Linked DNA regions of Homo sapiens: all the other regions are linked to region 1. Evidence: fine-mapped expression QTL. A gene starts in region 1. Each other region holds a variant in brackets. All regions are shown on one strand. Distances are from middle to middle. Region 1 holds the start of PPP1R37 (protein phosphatase 1 regulatory subunit 37). Region 2 overlaps PPP1R37 (protein phosphatase 1 regulatory subunit 37). Region 3 overlaps PPP1R37 (protein phosphatase 1 regulatory subunit 37).

The links.
Region 2: its variant is fine-mapped to the expression of PPP1R37 in whole blood (INTERVAL, PIP 0.96).
Region 3: its variant is fine-mapped to the expression of PPP1R37 in whole blood (INTERVAL, PIP above 0.99).

The regions. Positions count from the first base shown.
Region 1 is chr19:45,090,079-45,096,372 of GRCh38, forward strand. PPP1R37 (protein phosphatase 1 regulatory subunit 37) reads left to right here and starts at 3,101. Exons shown (of 13, transcript NM_019121.2): 1 at 3,101-3,449. The coding sequence starts at 3,248. GEMIN7 (gem nuclear organelle associated protein 7) reads left to right here. Exons shown (of 3, transcript NM_024707.3): 3 at 29-1,440. The coding sequence starts at 37. The coding sequence ends at 432. It overlaps GEMIN7-AS1 (GEMIN7 antisense RNA 1), which reads right to left and starts at 313. Exons shown (of 2, transcript NR_134887.1): 1 at 1-313. RefSeq lists enhancers at 1-708, 709-1,703, 1,314-1,363, 2,704-2,753 and silencers at 1,472-1,656, 3,174-3,383.
Region 2 is chr19:45,146,376-45,152,669 of GRCh38, forward strand. PPP1R37 (protein phosphatase 1 regulatory subunit 37) reads left to right here. Exons shown (of 13, transcript NM_019121.2): 12 at 15-105; 13 at 196-910. The coding sequence ends at 97. NKPD1 (NTPase KAP family P-loop domain containing 1) reads right to left here. Exons shown (of 5, transcript NM_198478.4): 5 at 3,369-6,294. The coding sequence ends at 5,563. Among named protein-coding and RNA genes, the nearest start is that of NKPD1, 11 kb to the right of the region's middle. The variant T/A (reference allele first, on the strand shown) is at 2,893.
Region 3 is chr19:45,113,465-45,119,758 of GRCh38, forward strand. All of the region lies in intron 1 of PPP1R37 (protein phosphatase 1 regulatory subunit 37), which reads left to right. Among named protein-coding and RNA genes, the nearest start is that of PPP1R37, 23 kb to the left of the region's middle. RefSeq lists enhancers at 2,967-3,622, 3,801-3,960, 5,501-5,550, 5,731-5,780. The variant G/A (reference allele first, on the strand shown) is at 2,784.

The DNA of each region.
Region 1 (6,294 bases):
CTTCCTGCTCTTTTTCTTCACTCAACAGCCAAGACAATGCAAACTCCAGTGAACATTCCCGTGCCTGTGCTCCGGCTGCCCCGGGGCCCTGATGGCTTCAGCCGTGGCTTTGCCCCTGATGGACGCAGAGCCCCCTTGAGGCCAGAGGTTCCTGAAATCCAGGAGTGTCCCATAGCTCAAGAATCCCTGGAATCCCAGGAGCAGCGGGCACGAGCCGCCCTTCGGGAGCGTTACCTCCGCAGCCTGCTGGCCATGGTGGGTCATCAGGTGAGCTTCACGTTGCACGAGGGTGTGCGTGTGGCCGCCCACTTTGGAGCCACCGACCTGGATGTGGCCAACTTCTACGTGTCACAGCTGCAGACTCCCATAGGTGTGCAAGCAGAGGCGCTGCTCCGATGTAGTGACATTATTTCATATACCTTCAAGCCATAAAGATATTGTGTTCACTTTTCTGCTTGAGGCTAAGGCACTGTATCCCAGGCCTCCCAATGTTCCCGAGCCAGGAACTCTGGGCCCCATGGAGTTATGAGCTCCCTTGGAATTTTGAGCCAAGCTTTAAGCAAGTCTGGACTCCTGAGACCTCCTGGGTCTAGTCAGTAAAATTCTGCAACTCTAGGAATTCTAAGATCCCATTGGAAGGAATGCTCTACCTCACAGAACTCTGAACCCTACAGAAATATGGGCCTGCTGCCATTTCCTGAAGACCGGGGCATCGGGGTGGGGTGATAAAGGATACAACCTGCACAGGGGGAAGTTATTAAAGAGGCTGCAAAGTCCAGCCACCCTGAAGATACTCCCCAGTGCTCCCCTCCTGCTAAAGAACCAGTTACCCCAGGAAAATTCGACTCCTGTTTTTCTTTAATTAACTATACCGACGGGGATGGAGTCATCTTTAGGGGCTGGTAGGGTGGTTATCCAAGGGCTGAATCCAGTGGAGCTGGGCCAAGTACGACAGGAGTCCAGATAAAGGTGTAGGGGCTGCACGGCCGCAAGTCTCCTGGAAAGGCTGGAGTGACCGGCATGCCGGGATTGGGAGATTAGGATTTGATTTCATTTTGGGGCGGGCGGTGGCTCGTGCTGGGTCACGTGGTCGTGCCCAAGCGCTCCTCCTGTTGCCCCACCTGTGGTTGCTGTGGACTGCACACGACAGCAGATTCGCTGTCCCCTCGTTGGAGGCGAATGGTCGGACCCCGAGTGGCGGCGCCCCTGATAAAAGGCCGAGGATTCGCGATCAGGGTGCAACTTCACTCCCTCCTCTTTTCTCTCCAGCCTTGCAGCGTGGCCGTTCACATCACGCGCTTCACTAAGCCTCCTATCACTAGTAACCTTTCAGCGCATTGTTTAAAAAGAAAGCAGTTTCTGTCCCTTTCTGTAGTTCCTTTAAGTTCAGGATGTAAGCGAAGCCTTCCATTAAGTAAAGGTGAGTGTCGTTTCGTCTCAGTCGCGAAAGTGCGGCGGCCGATGATGAACCGCGCCAGGAGCAGCCTCAGCGGCCATCAGTCCATTCGCAGCGCCGGCTCCGCCGAGGCCCGGACTTAGCTCTCGAGTTGCCTTGGCGACGACGCAGCTCGCTCCGCCCCAGTTCCCTTTTATGGTTTCAGCCCCGCCTCCTCTAGTTAGCCGGGTGCGCTTCGGCAAGCGTGGCGAAAGTGCGGCGGCGAATGTCAAGCGTTGGGTCTGAGCCTAGGGGTGTGGCTTGAGCTCACGCTGGTTCTTTCTTGCCTCGGTGATCCACCAGCCTTGTCACCCAGGATTTAGGTTGGCAGATTCGTCTCTCGCCTTTGGAATTTCTACCTTCTCCTAGGTTTTGTTTTTTAAAATCAGGCCTATGATACCGCTCATGGGCTCATATTTATTTTAGCATTGTAATTTAAGTTGTATTTTATGCAACTCTACCCCGATACAGAGAGCTGTTGATGTAACTGCAGCGAGCAAATGGAGGACTAGAGACTAGCGAAGGGGCCGAGACTTCGTCTCCAGAGTATCCCTGTCAGCATCCATCAACTGCACTCATATATTGAATGCAGCTCCTATCCGCCTTTCTTTTCGACTTCTTCATGCCGTTACCACTCTTCATCAGTTAGTCTAGCCTCAATGTTTTCATTTATTTCCTTTGTTTTTTTTGGGGGGGGGGGAACGGAGTCTTGCTCTGTCGCCCAGGCTGGAGTGCAGTGGCACGATCTCGGCTCACTAAAAGCTCCGCCTCCCGGGTTCACACCATTCTCGTGCCTCAGGCTCCCGAGTAGCTGGGACTACAGGCGCCCGCCACCACGCCCGGCTAATTTTTTGTATTTTTAGTAGAGACGGGGTTTCACCGTGTTAGCCAGGATGGTCTCGATCTCCTAACCTCGTGATCCGCCCGTGTCGGCCTTCCAAAGTGCTGGGATTACAGGCGTGAGCCACCGCGCCCGGCCCATTTCTTTCCTTTCGTTGAGACAGGGTCTGGCTCTGTCTACCAGGTCGGAGTGCAGGGGCGCGATCATAGCTCAGTGCAGCCTCAACCTACCGGGCTCAAGCGATCTTCCCACCTCCCAAGTAGCTGGAACTACAGGCTCCTGTAACCAGACCCTGCTAATTTTTAAATTTTTTGTAAAGACGGGGCCTTGCTATGTTGCCCAGGCTGGTCTCGAACTCCTGGACTCAAGCGATCTTCCCGCCTCAGCCTTCCAAAGTGCTGGGATTATAGGCGTGTGCCGCCGCGCCCCGCCAGGTGTTTTCAGTTCTATGCACTCCATTCCCTGGGCTCTTGACGAATGTGCGGGAGCTGAATATTCGTTATTTGGACTCCGGCAGGAAGGCGTGGGCTCAGCTTCGCGCTTGCGCGCTGCTCTTGGAGACGGCGTCTACTTCGCCCCGCCCCTCATAGTCTGCAGTTCCGGCTCTGCAGATTCGCTGCTCACGTTTCTTTTTTCCGTGGCCCTTCCTGCCCTTTGTTTCTCTCTTCATGTCACCCGCGGGACAACTCTACGTGCAAGTCGCTGAAATCGATTTTCTGCTTCTTATAGTAAGCGGCGGGCTCGCCAGCCTCGAGCGAAAGTGTGACTGCGAACGGGCAGGCGCGCGCGGGGCTCGGCGGAGGCGCGCTTGGGCTCCCGGCGGCGACGACTACGACCACTAGGAGAGCGGACGGAGGCGGCGCCTGAAGCGGCGGCGGAGCCCATGCCCCGGGACGGCGGGCGGACCCGGAGAGACAAATCCGGGGCCCGGGGCATGTCCCCGGGGCCCCCGTGAGGAGGCGGCGGCGGCTATGGAGATCGCGCCGCAGGAGGCGCCGCCCGTGCCGGGCGCGGACGGCGACATTGAAGAGGCCCCAGCTGAGGCCGGGTCTCCCAGCCCCGCGTCGCCCCCCGCCGATGGGCGCCTCAAGGCTGCAGCCAAGCGCGTCACATTCCCGTCCGACGAGGATATCGTGTCTGGAGCAGTGGAGCCCAAAGACCCCTGGAGACATGGTAGCTACCGCGGGTGAAGCGGGGGCGGGCTCGAGAGGGACCCGGGAGTCGGGAGGGATCGGTGCAGGGCCCGGCTCGAGGTGGCGTTCAATAGATTGCACCTAATGGTGAATAAGGGGACAGTCGTCAGTTTAGAACCGTAGTCTGTTAGAAAGGGGGTGGCTATGGAGTTGGGAAGGTGAAAAGTATCTGGTTTCTGCCGCACCCCACCCACCCGAGACAAAGATGGTGATCGTTTTAGGGTTTAAAACGATGAGCAATTAAAGAAAGTTTGGTGTTTTGTCAGATGTAGAGTGTGGCAGCCTTTGCGTTCGTAGTTCCACCAGAGAAGGAGAGAAGGAGCAGTTGAGAGGAGGAGCGGGTCAACACTGGGCCTGAAAGGGCAGTTGAAAGAGTTTGATGGGTCTATGGGGGTAAAAAGAGGTTAAGTTGCTGGTCTGCAAGCCTTGGGGCAAGGAGTGGTCGTGTTGGCCACTTTCTTGGCTGGAAAGAGGGAGACTATAAACTTGGACTGTGGCTATAGAGGACTTGGTAAAAAGGAGTCAAGATAAGGTCCCAGAAGAGGAGCAGAGGTGGTGGTCAATTTGTGGTTGGGTGAGGGAGAAAGAGGCAGTGTGGTTTTTATGTTTTCTTTTTTATTGAGACAAGGTCTCACTACATTGCCCAGGCTGGTCTCGGACTTCTGGGTTCAAGCTGTCCTCCCTCCTTGGCCTCCCAGAGTGTTGGGATTACAGGTGTGAGCCACCGCCGCCTGCTGCAATGTGGTATTAAGAAGAAAAGCCAACGCCTACCGCCGCCTCCTCCTCCAAAAAAAAGAGAAGCAGAAGGAAGGCTGTCAGTCATTCAGGAGCAGAGGATGTTTGGGACATGGCTACGGAAGGGTCCTCTTGTTCCTTCCTGAGAAAGAATTGGGGGATGGCCGGGTGCATTGGCTCAGGCGTGTAATCCCAGCACTTTGGGAGGCCAAGGTGGGTGGATCACCTGAGGTCAGGAGTTTAAAACCAGCCTGGCCAACATGGGGAAACCCCGTCTCTACTAAAAATACAGAAATTGGCCGGGCATAGTGGTGCACACCTGTAATCCCATCTACTCAAGAGGCTGAGGCAGGGAGAATCGTTTGAACCCGGGAGGTGGAGGTTGCAGTGAGCTAAGATCACGACATTGTACTCCAGCCTGGGTGACAAGAGCAAAACTCCGGCTCAAAGAAAAAAAAAAAAAGAATTGGGGGATGTTATCAAGTCAGAAATTGGAGTTGCTGGCCAGTAGCAGGTGAGAGAGATGAAAAAGTTGGCTACTTGAAGTGTTGGGAGAGAGGGCCAGCGCACTGGAGAGGGTCAGGTCAGTGTTGGAGCTGAAAGGAGTGTGTTGGAGCCATAGGGCTGGGAAAGTGGAAAGTCGCTTGGGACATGCAGGGCAGTGTTGAGTCCATTTTGTGCTGGAGAAGTCTGTCAGTTCTCCTGGGGTGGAGCCCATGAAGTGAGGGATCAGACTGGCTGTGGTGGCCGTGGTTCTGTAGAAGCTGATCTGCCGGCCCTGGGCAAGGGGAGAAACTATTGCCAGTCTGTGGACAATGGAGGAATTGGTGGCTTTGATGTGAGGGTGGGAAACATGGTAACTGGAAACTGAACACACAGGGAGTCCATCATGAATGACAGTTTGGCTACTTATTATAATTTTTTAGACGGAGTCTCCCTCTGTCGCCCAGGCCAATTCTCCTGCCTCAGCCTCCTCAGTATCTGGGATTACAGGCACCTGTCATCACACCTGGCTAAAAATGTTTGTATTTTTAGTAGAGTTGGGGGTTTCACCATGTTGGCCAGGCTGGTCTCGAACTCCCGACCTCAGGTGATCTGCCCACTTAAGCCTTCCAAAGTGCTGGGATTACCGGCATGAGCCACCGTGCCCGGCTGGCTAGTTATTCTTAAAGAGGCAGTGGTTAAATTAAGACTTTTGGGCCGGACGCCATGGTTCATGCCTGCAACCCCAGCACTTTGTCAGGCCAAGGTGGGCAGATCACCTGAGCCCAGGAGTTCAAGACCAGCTTGGGCAACAAGGTGAAACCGCGTCTCTGCAAAATATACGAAAATTAGCCAGGTGTGGTGGTGCACGCCTGTAGTCCCAGCAACTCAGGAGGCTGAAGTGGGAGGATCATTTGAGCCCAGGAGGTCGATAGTGCAGTGAACTGTGATTGCGCCACTGAACTCCAGCTTGGGTGACAGAGACCCGGTCTTAAAAAAAAAAAAAAAAAAAAGAGTTTTGGCACTAGGAGCCAGCCAAGTCCTTGGGCTCTAGGCCCCAGGGATAGGTGGTTAGTTTGGGACCCGGGCACAGTCAGAATGCCCCCTGGCTATTGCGTGATATCCAGTCCAGAGCAGGAAGGGGAAAGACCTGGAGAGGCAGAGCAGGGTGTTTCAAGAGCAGAGGCTCCAGGTCAGATCCTTTGAGACCTCGGGCTGGTTACCTAACTCCTGAGCCTCAGTCTTCCCATCTGTGAAGTAGGTGGCAATACTCTTGCCACGGAATTTAGGAGAGGACTGGATGAAGTCACATATGGAAAGGAATTGGCCAGGGTGAGTGTTCTCGATGGCAGTCATTGTTATTAAGACAGTGTTGGTCATCTTGGGCTGGTGTGGAGGAGTTCATGCATGGGGTGGGGCCTGGATGTGGCTGCTTCAGAGGCTTCCAGGAGAGGGGAGAGATGGCAGTCAATGCGTGGGCCTGGAGTGAGGTGCGAGGGGGAAGATGGTCAGTTTGTGGGCTGAAGGGTCAGGGGTGAGGGCAGCAAGAGAGTCTGGCACAGATTGGGCTTTGGGGGGTAAAGTTTCTGGTCTGCAGATTCCCAGAA
Region 2 (6,294 bases), 56 kb after region 1:
GTCCTCCCACACAGAACTGAGCTGCTCCAAGAACGAGAAGGAGCTCGAGGAGCTGCTTCTGGAAGCCAGTCAGGAATCCGGGCAGGAGACACTGTGACACTTTAGGTGAGGCCAGGCCCGGGGCCCACAGCACTCGGGAGGAGCTGAGAGAGCCTCTGGCTCTGACAGTCTCTCCCCCAATCTCTCCTCCCCAAGTTCCCTTTTTCCGGTCGGTCTGCGATGAGCTGAGGCCAGAGCCATGAGAATCTGCTCACCTTCCCCCCAGCCTTCCTGAGGCCCAGGATGCCAGGGGTGGGGGCCATTCTGGGGCCCCCCTCCCCCCACAGCAACACTACAAGGGGTGCAGGAGCTACAGGGAGTGGCCCTCCGCGCGTGACTCAAGCACTTCTATTTATGAGCCCAGCACTGGAAGACTCTGGGGGTGAATGGGAGGAGGGGGAGCAGGAGGAGGAGGAGGTCTCCAAGGACATCAGGCGCCTGTTCTGGAGGGGCCAGGCTTGCCCTGCGGAGGGCAGGCGTCCTGGGTGGTGGTGGGATGGTCCCCTGTGGCCCCGGGCACAGGGCCGGGCAGGCAGCCTGGTGCCGGAGAGGCGGTGCGTGCTGGTGGTGGTTGAGATGCACAGAACAGCCCCAGACAGCGCAGGCCGGGCAGGGTGGGGGGATGGGAGCAGAGGATCAGAGCTTTCTTTTTCTCAAGTGCAATAAATCTATCAGGGAGCTGGGGCGGGAGCAGCCGGCACTCCGGGACCCTGCTGTCCAGGCCACTGGAGGCTGCGCCCTGAGAGGCACTACAGCCCTTTGGGGGCGAGTGGCATGGGTGTGGGTGAGGGTGGGCAGAGGGCTGGGGCTACTCCTGTCGGTGCAACTCTGTTCACACCTTTTCTAATAAACTGGGGCTGGGTTCACTTTGCCCAACGTCTGCTTCGTGCGGATCCTGGAGGTGGTTGCTGGGGGTGGGCTGGGTGGAGGCCATCACAGCTCCTGGTTACAGAGCATCTGCCAGGGCACTGGTCAGGCATTACTGCGTCTTCCCCCACAGTCCCGTCTATTCTGCATCCATGCTCTGGTGTCTCGTACGGTCACCTCCCAGCCAGGCGAGTTTACACCCATCCTTTCTGCAGGGAGAGACAGGCCCCAGATACCTCCTGGCTTCAGGTCTAGGGTCTCAGGATGCTGGATATGGAGTGGCTCTGCCCAGTCGCCCATCGCTCAACAGGAACAGATCCCAGCCTGTCCCTGGCAGCCCCAGGTGTTGTGCAGGTGGGAGTATGCCCCGGGCCCAGCCAGCACTGCAGGAGCCTGGTGGGCGGCTTGTTCCCCTTTGCCAGCAGGGGCCTGGGGGGCCATGGGGGTGCTGTTGCGGATTTCTGAGAGGTCTGTTTTTCCCTTTAGGAAAGGGGGGAGCAGGCCGGGCATGGTGGCCCACACCTGTAATCCCAGCACTTTGGGAGGCTGAGGTGGGAGGATTGCTTGAACCCAGGAATTTGACACCAGCCTGGGCAACATGGTGAAACCCCATCTCCATAGAAAATACAAAAATTAGCTGGGTGTGGTGGCGTGTGCCTGTAGTCCCAGCTACTGAGGAGGCTGAGTTGGGAGGATCGCTTGAACCCAGGAGGTTGAGGCTGCAGTGAGGTGTGATTGCACCACTGCACTTCAGCCTGGGCAACAGAGTGAGATCCTGTCTCAAAAAAAAAAAAAATTACTAAACGAGCATTTCTGGGCCACCCATCCCCTTGTTTCCCGTGTGGGAGGCTGACATGGATGGAGGCGTTGTGGTGACATCACGAGAACCACAGTCGCAGGCTGGAGCCCTGGTGTCATTCAGCTCCTGCACACACCAGGGAGTCCCCTGCCCCCAGCCACCCTGGCCTCTGGGAGGAACACCTTAGGAAGCCACTGCTGGTTTGCTGTTTGGTCCCTTGCAGCTGTAAGTGTCCTAACTGCTCCCCAGGTCAGCCACGGCTAGGACTCTTATTTGGGCGAGGGACTTAGGGAAGCTACACAGAACAGCCGCCAGCAGCCCGCAGCACTCTTCCCATCCCTGCACAGCCAGCTTGTCCCCAGCTCTGCTAATGTGCGATGTGGCCATGGGTGAAGGGAAGAAGGGGCCCCCTCCTGGCCACTGTGGATCCAGCCCGTCTTGGTGAGGGGCCGGGGCATGTGAGGTGTTTGCATCAAGGTACTGAGAGACCTCTGTCCTTCGCCTGGTTTGGGTCAGCACAGTGCCCCAACGATCTTCAGAGGCCCTTGGTCGATATTAGCCGTTGCTCATGGTCTCAGCCTCTGTGGAGGCAGCTGTGTTGGGGTCTCACCCAGCCCGCTGGCCGTCTGCCTCCCCACCCCATGTGAGGTATGCTAGGGGAGGGACAGGGATCCTCTTCCCAGCCTGTCCCTTGATTTGCTTTCACTAAATTGAGCTTGGAGTGAGGAACTGGGCCTTTCTTACTGTTGGGGGTTGAATTGTGTCTCCCACAAAAAAAGATGTTTGTTTATTTATTTATTCATTTATTTATTGAGCTGGAGTCTCGCTCTGTTGCCAGGCTGGAGTGCAGTGGCGCAATCTCGGCTCACTGCAACCTCCGCCTCCCAGGTTCAAGCAATTCTGCTGCCTCAGCCTCCCGAGTAGCTGGGAGTACAGGCGTGCACCACCACGCCCAGCTAATTTTTGTACTTTTAGTAGAGACGGGGTTTCAACATGTTGGCCAGAATGGTCTCAATCTCTTGACCTCGTGATCTGCCCACCTCGGCCTCCCGAAGTGCTGGGATTACAGGCGTAAGCCACTGCGCCTGGCCAAAAAAAGATCTTTAAAGTCCTTACCTCCAGTACCCCAGAATGTGAGCTCACTTAGAAATAGGGTTTTTACAAAGGTAATCAAGTTTTAACTCATT[T/A]TAATGAGGTCACTCGGGTGGGCCCTGCTGCAGTCTGATTGGTGTCCTTATTAAAAGGGGCATTTGGGCACAGGGAGACTGCCACGTGAAGACAGAGGATGGGGTGATGCCTTTGCAAGCCAGGGAGTGCGGAGATGGCCAGCAATGCACCAGGAGTGGGGAGCAGGCACAGAGAGCCCCTCCTTCATCTGGAACTTTTAGCCTCCAGAAGCGAGAGACGATACATTTGTCCTTCAAAGGCACGTGGTCTGTTAGACTGTGTTAGAGCAGCTCTAGAAACCACAGCCGTTACCACAACACCCCAGCCTGCCGCGCTCCTGATTTTCTGAAGGGTCCCAGATCGAGGGCTGGAGGCTGAGAGGATCCCCCTTGCCATCTTGTCTTCCCCTTCCCTTCAGCCACCCAAGTGTCACCCGAGCTTGTCACGTTTTGGTAGCCTTTGCTGAAGACGTAGGGGGTCTGTTTCATGCAAGATCTCAATGTCCTAACACAGGAGATGTTTATTGTCACATGTGGATGTTCAGAGTGGCAGGCAGCTCTTCACCAAGTTATTCCTGGACCCAGGCCCCTTTGAAGCTCTTAGGGCTCTGTTGCTCCCCAGGGCCTCAAGGATCCCGGATCAAGTGGGCAGATGGGGGAAGGGAGTGGAGAAGGGAAACCTGCTCCCTGACTCATTGCTGGGAAAGGCGCACAGGTCAGCCGTGCTCCTTTTTTGTTCGTGACAACGGTCCCGTGGCTTTACACAGGTGCAAGTTCTCATAGCAGCTCCACGTGAAGATACAGTGACCAACAGTTTGGCCACAGCTTGTACCACGTAACAGAGGCTGCGGCTTTTTTTTTTAATCAGTCGGAGTCTTGCTCTGTCGCCCAGGCTGGAGTGCAGTGGCACCATCTTGGCTCCAGCCACCACCTCCCGGGTTCAAGTGATCCTCCCACCTCAGCCTCCTGAGTAGCTGGGATTACAGGCATGCACCACCATGCCCAGCTAATCTTTTTGTATTTTTATTAGAGACAGGGCTTCACCATGTTGGCCAGGCTGATGCAGCTTCTTACTGAGGCATGGGGGGCTTCAGTCCTGCCCTCACCTCCAGCCAAGTCTACACGTTAGCATCTCTCACAGCACCCCACTCCTGGTAACAGGAGTGAAAATTTATTTTCAGCTTGGATTCCAGGTGGTAAGAAACAAACCCAACTGAAACTGGCTTAAGGGAGGCTACAGGGATATATTGACCCCAACCACACATCTACAGAAACAGACTTAACGGTGTCACGAGGCCCCATCCTTCTCCCTCTGAGGCCAGCTCTCCCTGACTGCTGGGAAACAGCTCCCAGGAGGTCCAGGCGTATCCTACCAGCTTAGTCAGTCCAGGAATGGGAAACAGCACCTCTGCTTGCCCAGCCCCAGGGAAGATCATAGAGGGCTCCCACTGACCTGCATGCACCTGTGACAATTGCTGTGGCCAGAGAACTCCGGTGCTGCAGCCAGACCTGGATGCTATGCCCAGCCTTGGAACTAAAGAACTGTGAGGTCAGTGACCCAGTCCCATGGCCTGAGGGTGTGTGCCTTTGCAGAGCTCTCAGGTTCCTCGGGGGCTGTCCCCTCCACCAGCCTCAGGGCCCTGGCTCAGAAGCCACACCCTCAGCCTCATCCCAGGGTATGTTCAGTGTTGGCCCTTGTGGCCCCTGCCGGCACACACTTGGAACTGGGCCAGGCACCCCAGGGCCTGAGCGTGTGGCTGAACATTTGACCAGTGAGGAATCAGGAACTGCCCAGAGGAGTGACACCCACCCCCAGCCCAGGGCTCTGCCCAGAGGGAAAGTGGGGGAGCCCTAGTGTAACCCCTCCTGGCTGGCTGTGGCTTGGGCCCTGTATGTCCCCATCTCTGCCCAACTTCCCTGTCCTCATCAGGGGGCTGATGCAGTGGCTTCAGTGTCAGTGACTAACCAGTGGCCCTGGAGTGACTCGTAAGGCAGGTACCCTGTGGACAGTTATTTGTCTGGGGGAGGTTAGTGCCACCCACTCCAGCTGGCTGAGGTGCCAGCGAGGTCTAACCCATTACGTTGAGAATGGAGCCACCCTAGGGGTGGAGCAGCTTGCTGAGGTCACCGAGGTCATCCTCAGAAATGCCAGCCCCTGCCCTACTCACAGAGGGGCAAGCTAGGGCATGGGGACAAGGACTGGGATTCCCTGAGGCCTGGGCGCTCCATGTTGCCTGAGTCAACCTGGCCCATCCACCTGTCATCTCTGCAGCCTCACCCACCACCCCCGCAGCCTCTCCTGCCACAGAGATGCCAGATGAGGAGGCCAGCATGGTGCAGAGGAGTAAGTGGGCTTAGCAGGATGGGGCAGGCCCTGTGGCAGGACGGGGCAGGCCTGGTCCCTGGTCAGATCAGGATGCGGAGAGCAACTCCGGGCTCTCAACACCTCCATTTATTGCATGTATACCCTGACTTCCTCACTGGTCCTTCTGTGCCTGCTCTCATGCTGGCACCGGCTTGTGGCCGCACTCCTTGGAAGCTATGTCCACGGCTCTGGCTCAGGTTCACCTGGGGGTGTGGGCCTCACAGGGCTCATTCGGACCCTGGGTTGCGGCCCCAGTCCAGCCCCCTATTCTCCCATCTGGGCAGATGGAGGAACCCTTGCCTCCTGCTGCCCGCCAAGTCCTCCATTTAAGGCCCACCTGGGCTGGATTGCCCTGGACGGAAGAGCGCACAGGCCACCGGCCATAGCTTGCCCCTGTGGGCCAAGTCCCCAGTGTGGTGGCCTTCGCCGGCTTGCCCTGAGGCACGGCCCGACGGGGGCGCCCTGGAGGCGCTGTTGGCCCGGTGGGCAGCGTGGGGGGTATCGCGGGTAGGGGACTTGGGCGGGCTGGGCGGCTTGAGCGCGCTGACGGCTCGGATGAGACCCATGCGCCGGCGGATGGAGTGGTCCAGGTTGACCGTGCAGCGCAGCAGGCTCTGCGCCTCGGCCACGGTGAAGGGGAAGTCGGCGCCCAGGAAGCGCTCGAAGAGCTCGGGGTCGCCGTCCAGGTCGAGCACGTTCTGCAACGCCTTGGTCATGGTGTGCAGCTCGCGGCTGTTGTCGCGGAAAACGTCCCAGAGGCGCGCGCGGCCCTCGGGCGCGCCCCCGGTCTGCTGCCGGTCCTCCAGGCACTGCAGCGCCCAGCTCAGGCGGCACGGCCACTGGTTGGCGAGCACCACCCACGCCACCGCCTGGCGCGGCGTGGGGCCCCCAAAGTCCCCCTGCTGCTGCTGCTGCTGCAGCAGGCGCACGGTGATGGGCACGGTGTTGACGATGCGCCGCATGGACACCACGTTGTCGGGCACGTACTCGTAGAGGCAGTCGCGCTCGTCGTGAAGGCAGAAGAGCGCCTCCTGGATTCGCCGCGCCGCCTCGTCGTC
Region 3 (6,294 bases), 23 kb after region 1:
GCTCCTCACAGCTAGTCAGTGGCAAATCTGAACTTCACTCCTGGCAGCCAGAGCCCAGCCCCTGCCCTGCACGATGGTAGCAGAGCCTGTCTGCAGGCACCAGGCATTCAGAGAGCTTTACCTCCTGTCCTCTTGACTCTTCATGGCAAAGCTGGAAATGGGGAGACTGAGGAACAGAGTTACTTGGCCCCAGTGCTGCCTCTGATTTGAGGAGGCAGGGTCAGCCCTGGGCCATCGCTGCCTTTGTCCCTGAGTCTGCGTTCCCCTCCACTCCGTGAGCTCACTCAGAGAGTTCTCTCCGCCCCCTCACCACTCTTGGTGATTATTTATCCCCAGGTCTTCACTTCGGCACCATCAGGTGCCCAGCCCTGGGTAAATATTTGTCTCAGGGCAGACAGGAGTGGGTGTGGTCAGCGTTTCAGAGCCCGGGGGCAGGTGGAGGCAGCAGGTGGGGTGGTGACTGGGGGCCCCTGGCTGGAGCTGGTGGCTCTGCTTGCTCTTTGCTCATCCAGCATCCACTCTCCCGGGGGCTGCTGAGGCGTTGGCCTCTGCAATAACAGGGGCTTCCGTTTGCCACGCGCCAGCCCCACACTAGACGCTTTACACAAGAGAGTTCAGTGGCTGCTTTTAGAAGTCTTTGTGTGTCAGTCTCAGTCTCATTGGCTCCATTTTGCAGATGAGGAGACTCAGCCATGAAGGGTCGAGAGCCATTGCCTGTGTCAACTGGGGTCTGTTGAGTTATCAGGGCCAGAATCCACCTGGGGCCACAGGAGGTGAATGAGGGTGTTCATTGGATGGAGGCCAGGCTTTGCCTGTTCCCAGGGGTCCTGAAAGCTGGCAGGAACCAGGTCTGCCACCTGCTCTCTGGAACACATGCACTCCTTGTTCCTCTTTCTCTCTTCAGAACGTCTTCCACTAGGCTGGCCATGGGCCACACAAGCCCAGCCCTCCTGGTGTCTGGAACAGGACCACCCAGTCCAGCCCCCTGACCCGGGCAGCTCATGCAGGCTTAGCTAGGACCCCACATCCTCCCTGTCAAATGGGCGATAGAGGGCCAGCCCACGCTTGTTGGGGTGGAGGGCAGTTTTTAGAGGAGGCTCTGCAGACACCCCAAATAGGCACCCCCAAATACAAGGTCTGACTGCAAAGGCCATGCCCTCACTAGGTTGCTGTTACATGTGTTTAGAAGGTGCATTCACAGGCTGGGCATAGTGGCTCACACCTATAATTCCAGCACTTTGGGAGGCCGAGGCAGGAGGATCACTTGAGGCCAGGAGTTCAAGACCACCCTGGGCAACAAGTGAGACCCCCCCCCCCATCTCCACAAAATATAAAAAATTAAATTTTCGGAAGGTGCATTCACATCACAAGGCAGAAAGTCACTAGTGTCCTCAGATGTGTACATCCCTTTGGGAAGCTCCTTCCAGCTGGGGGGCTTATGGAGGCCATAAAGGAACCCCCTAACTCCCCCTACACATCCCAGCAGAAAGCCCTGGGCTAGGGGACAGTCTTGGGCCCTTGTGTTCTGAGAGTGTTATTAGTCTCCACCACAGGATTGGCTGTGTTTTCTTAGTGGTTCAGGCATGCATTCAGCGAGTATTGAGCTCAGTGCCCAGTCCTGTACTGGGGACACAGCAGTGGCAAGGCAAGCCCGGCCCTGCCTTCCAGGCTTATTGTCCAGAGAGAGGGAAGTGTGGGAAACAAGTTGGCCAACCAGCAGACAGCACCACTGCAGATTGAGAGAAGGGTCTGGAAGGAAATAAACCAAGGCTGGAACAGAGGAGACAGTGGCGAGGCTGGTGGGTAGGTACCTGGCTTGGGTCAGGATATTGAACGCCTTAAACTCTTGGGTGAGGCATGGGGTCCACCAACCAGATGAAGTGGGCTTTGAAGTCAGGCCTACCTGTGCTGTGTGTCCTTGGCACATGCTCCATCTCCCTGCGCCTCAGTTTCCTCCTTTGGAAAGGATGGGGGAGGGATAGCTGTACCCCAAACCGTGGCATGAACAGAAAGGTCAAGGGTTTGGCTAAGAGTGAGGATTGTGGAGCCATAGACTGCTCAGGCTCGAATCCCGGCTCTGACTTTTACTGATTCTGTGGCCTCAGTTTCCCCATTTGAAATGGGGATAATAAACCCTACCTATCTTAGGGTTGTTGAAGACAGTAAATGAGGTAGTATATGTAAGTGCTTGCCATTGCTCGTAAAAATTATTTATCGTTAAAAGTTGCGGCCAGGCGCAGTGGCTCACATCTATAATCCCAGCACTTTGGGAGGCCGAGGCGGGTGGATCATCTGAGGTCCGGAGTTCGAGACCAGCCTGGCCAACATGGTGAAACCCCGTCTCTGCTAAAAATACAAAATTAGCCTGGTGTGGTGGCGGGTGCCTATAATCCCACCTACTCGGGAGGCTGAGGGAGGAGAATTGCGTGAACCCAGGAAGCGGAAGTTGCAGTGAGCTGAGATTGTGCCACTGCACTCCAGCCTGGGTGACAAGAGTGAGACTCTGTCTCAAAAAAAAAAAAAAAGTTGTGTGTCACATGGGGGGACTCGGGTGCTTAGCACACTGCTTGACTGGGGACCCAGGGATTAAGGCCTTGACTTCCGCTTTCATCCAAGCCTGCCATTGACCTTACATGCAGCTGCTGTGTGTGAGGCGCTGTGGCATGAGGGAAGGTGCGCCCAATCTGCCTTGTTCCTTCCGTCCCAAGAGACTTGGAAAGCCATGAGTGTGTTCTGACCGCATCTGTTTCTGTAACAGGATCTTCAGCTGCGGCAGGCAGTTG[G/A]GAAGGTCAGGACGAGGGGAAGGGAAGGCAGGCCTGTGGCACCTGCCATCTGCGCCCTTCACTGGAGTGGGCAGGCCTTGCCCACATCCCTGCCTGAGGCCTGGGGTCTGGAGGCCTGGCTCCTTGTTGGCTATGTAAGCCTAGCCCGCCCCCTGGAGCTGGCCATCCTGCAGCATGTGGCCACGGTACCCACTGGCTGAATGGTGGTGCCTCCCTGCCGGGAAGGGCAGAGAAGAGCCCCTCTCACCCAGGAAACTGCAGGACTCACGGCCTCTCAGCAGGCCTGAGGAGGGCACGGGGGTCTGAGAGGGAAGGACCGGCCATCCCAGCCTCCCCTGAGCAGGCTAACTTTCCAGGACGCATTGCGGGCTCCCTTCCCTCCAGCCCGTGGTTCTCTGGGGAGAAGGGAAGGGTGGACGTTGTCTTCATTTCCCAGAGTGAGTCGGTGCATTCGTTCATTCATAGACTCACAGCGACAGACACCACAGTGACGTCCCTAGACTCAGGGAGCCCTTGGTCTAGGACAGAAAACGAGCAAGTAGATCCTTAGAGATTGGGACGTGTCCAGTGAGGAGGCAGAGTGTTGTCTGGGTGTGGTGTGGGGGATGGGGATGGGGGTGCTGCTACAGAAAGGGGTCAGGAGAGGCTTCTCAGAGGAGGTGACTTTTTTTTTTTTTTTTTTTGAGACAGAGTTTCGCTCTTTTTGCCCAGGCTGGAGTGCAGTGGCACGATCTTGGCTCACTGCAGCCTCCATCTCCCAGCTCAAGCGATTCTCCTGTCTCAGCCTCCCAAGTATCTGGGACTACAGGCACGTGTCACCACACCCGGCTAATTTTTGTATTTTTAGTAGAGATGGGGTTTCACCATATTGGTCAGGCTGGTCTCGAACTCCTGACCTCAAGTGATGCACCCGCCTCAGCCTCCCAAAGTGCTGGGATTACAGGTGTGAGCCATTGCGCCTGGCCAGGAGGTGACTTTCGAGTTGAGATCTGAATGGCAAGTCAGCTGCGGCTTAAGCTGCAGGAGGGGAGGGAAGCTGTCAGAGGGAGGGAAGAGCAGTTGCAGACCCGGAGGCGGGAACAAACCACAAAGCCTGTAGAGTGGCTGAGGAGGCGTGGGCGAGCCGAGGGTGAGCCCCGGTGGAGTGCTGGCATCAGGGGGCCTTGTCCTGGGCTGAGGAGTTGAGGTTTTACTCTCAGTGCAGGGACAGGTGGTGCCGAGTGAAAGCCTGTGGCAGCAACCAGCCCGCTCCTGCACGGTCTCCTAAGCTAATTGTGCGCCTGCTTTGGGTCTGAATGGCGGGGACTGCACAGGACGTGGGTTTTCCTTCTACGGTGGGAGGTGATCTCAGGGAGTCTCCCTGCAGGTCCCCACCAGGTCTTCTGTGTGCCTACCATGGGCATGCAGTTCTGAAGCGCTGACTGGTGGTGGGAAACCTAGCCTGGAGATTGTCCCAGCCATCCCACCCAAGGCAGGGACAGGCCAGTGGGGCTACCCGAGCAAAGGCTTAGGGCAGCTGGTAGACCGGGCTGCAAGAATGAGGCCGCAGAGTTAGTCTTAGAGTAGCACCTGGCAGGAGGCTGGCTCCGTAAGCCAGTGCTCGTCCTTGGCATTGTTGACTCAGTGGCTCAGCTGATGAGCCCGAGGCTGCTGGGGAAGGTGTCCTCCTCAGCCTTACAGCTCCAGCCCCCGCGTGATCCGCGTTTCTCAGGCCTCTGGGTTACTGAGAGGCTGTTGGGGGTGGAGGTGCCCAGCGGTTGTTCACTGGGAAGAAGAACTCACCACCAGCGTCCCTTCATTTTTCCCAAGGAGTCACAGGCAGAGGTTTTTCCGAACAGGCTCAGCAGCCAGAAGTCCCCGCCTGGGCTTCCAACTGCCTACAGAGGTAGCTGCAGCCCTCCCCTCAGGCTGGCCTGTGTCACTGCCCTATTCTATGTCCAGGCCTCCCGGCACCCAGCCGCTGTCCCCATGAGTGCCCAGGGGAGCTCCCAGTTTAGCAGGGGGAGAGGGTTCCCCAGTGCAGAGTGGGTGGGAAGCCCGGGGCCTGTGACCTGTGTCACAGGGCATCTGAGGATGTTGTTCCTGGAAGGCAAGTGTGTGGCCACGGAGCTGACTTTGGGCTCTCATTTAGGAGGCTGACTCTGAAGGTCATAGTGGCTCAGCAGTGAAAGAGGAGGATCCCCACAGTGTGTGGTCTGTGTGGTCACTCAGGGATGTGACCTTTCTGACCCTCCTCTTCTTTGTCTTGGGTTGGGGGTCCCGGCCATATCCCCTTCCCAGGGATGTGCTAAGGTTTCAGGGAGCTCGGGTACATAAAGGGCTTGCCTGAGATAACTGCGTAGTAAATGACAGCTGTCAGTGGACTCCCTGCCGAACGTTGGGACACCACAGTTACGGACTTGTGCCAGGAGCCCCAGCTTCCTGCCACCCCTCACCGTGTACCTCAGAGTTCTCCTTTGACAACCCTCCATCTGGCTGTCCTGTCCCTCAGGGGTGGGCATGAGGCCCAAGTTCCTTCCTTCCTTTAGCCCACGTTCACTGAGCACCTGCTGGCCGGGCCCCAGGGAGCCACCCAGGTGGCTGCCTCCACAGCCGGGCTGGGCTTTATAACTAATTCTGTCGTGAGAGACTGGCCTTGGTGCCAGACCTCCCTCCCGGCCCACCTGCCGCCTCTGGGTTCCTTGTGGGCCACCGCCTCTGAGCAGCTGCTGCTTTTTTTTTTTTCTCATTTAACTTTTTGTTTTGTTTTTTGGTTTTTGAGACGGAGTCTCATTCTCTGTCACTCATGCTGGAGTGCAGTGGTGTGATCTCACTCACTGCAGCTTCCACCTCCTGGGTTCAAGCGATTCTCCTGCCCCAGCCTCCCGAGTAGCTGGGATTACAGGCACGTGCCACAACACCCGTCTAATTTTTTTTTTTTTTTGAGACAGAGTCTTGCTCTCTGTCACCCAGGCTGGAGTGCAGTGACACGATCTCAGCTCACTGCAGCCTCTGCTTCCCAGGTTCAAGCGATTCTCCTGCCTCAGCCTCCTGAGTAGCTGGGATTACAGGCATGTGTCACCATACCTGGCTAATTTTTGTATTTTGTAGAGATGGGGTTTTGCCCTGTTGGCCCGACTGGTGTCGAACTCCTGACCTCAGGTGATCTGCCCACCTTGGCCTCCCAAAGTGCTGGGATCACAGGCATGAGCCACGGTGCCTGGCCCGTTTAACTGTGTTTTGATGGACATTTTCAGACACAAGAAAGTAGGAGTATAATGAGTCTGATGGACCGACCCACTTTCTGGCTTCAGAATTGATGACTACATGGCCAATCTGTTCCTGCCTATCTCCATGCCACTCTCACCTGCATTATTTTGCAGCAGCTCTAAGATAGCTATCATTTTACCTATACATTGCTTGTGAAACAGTGGGAACACTCAGCCCCAAGCCGGCACCCTCTGTCCTCCACTGTCATCTGCCCCAGGCCCAGGATCAGACCACTGGGAAAGTGGCCAGGTAGGGCTGTGTC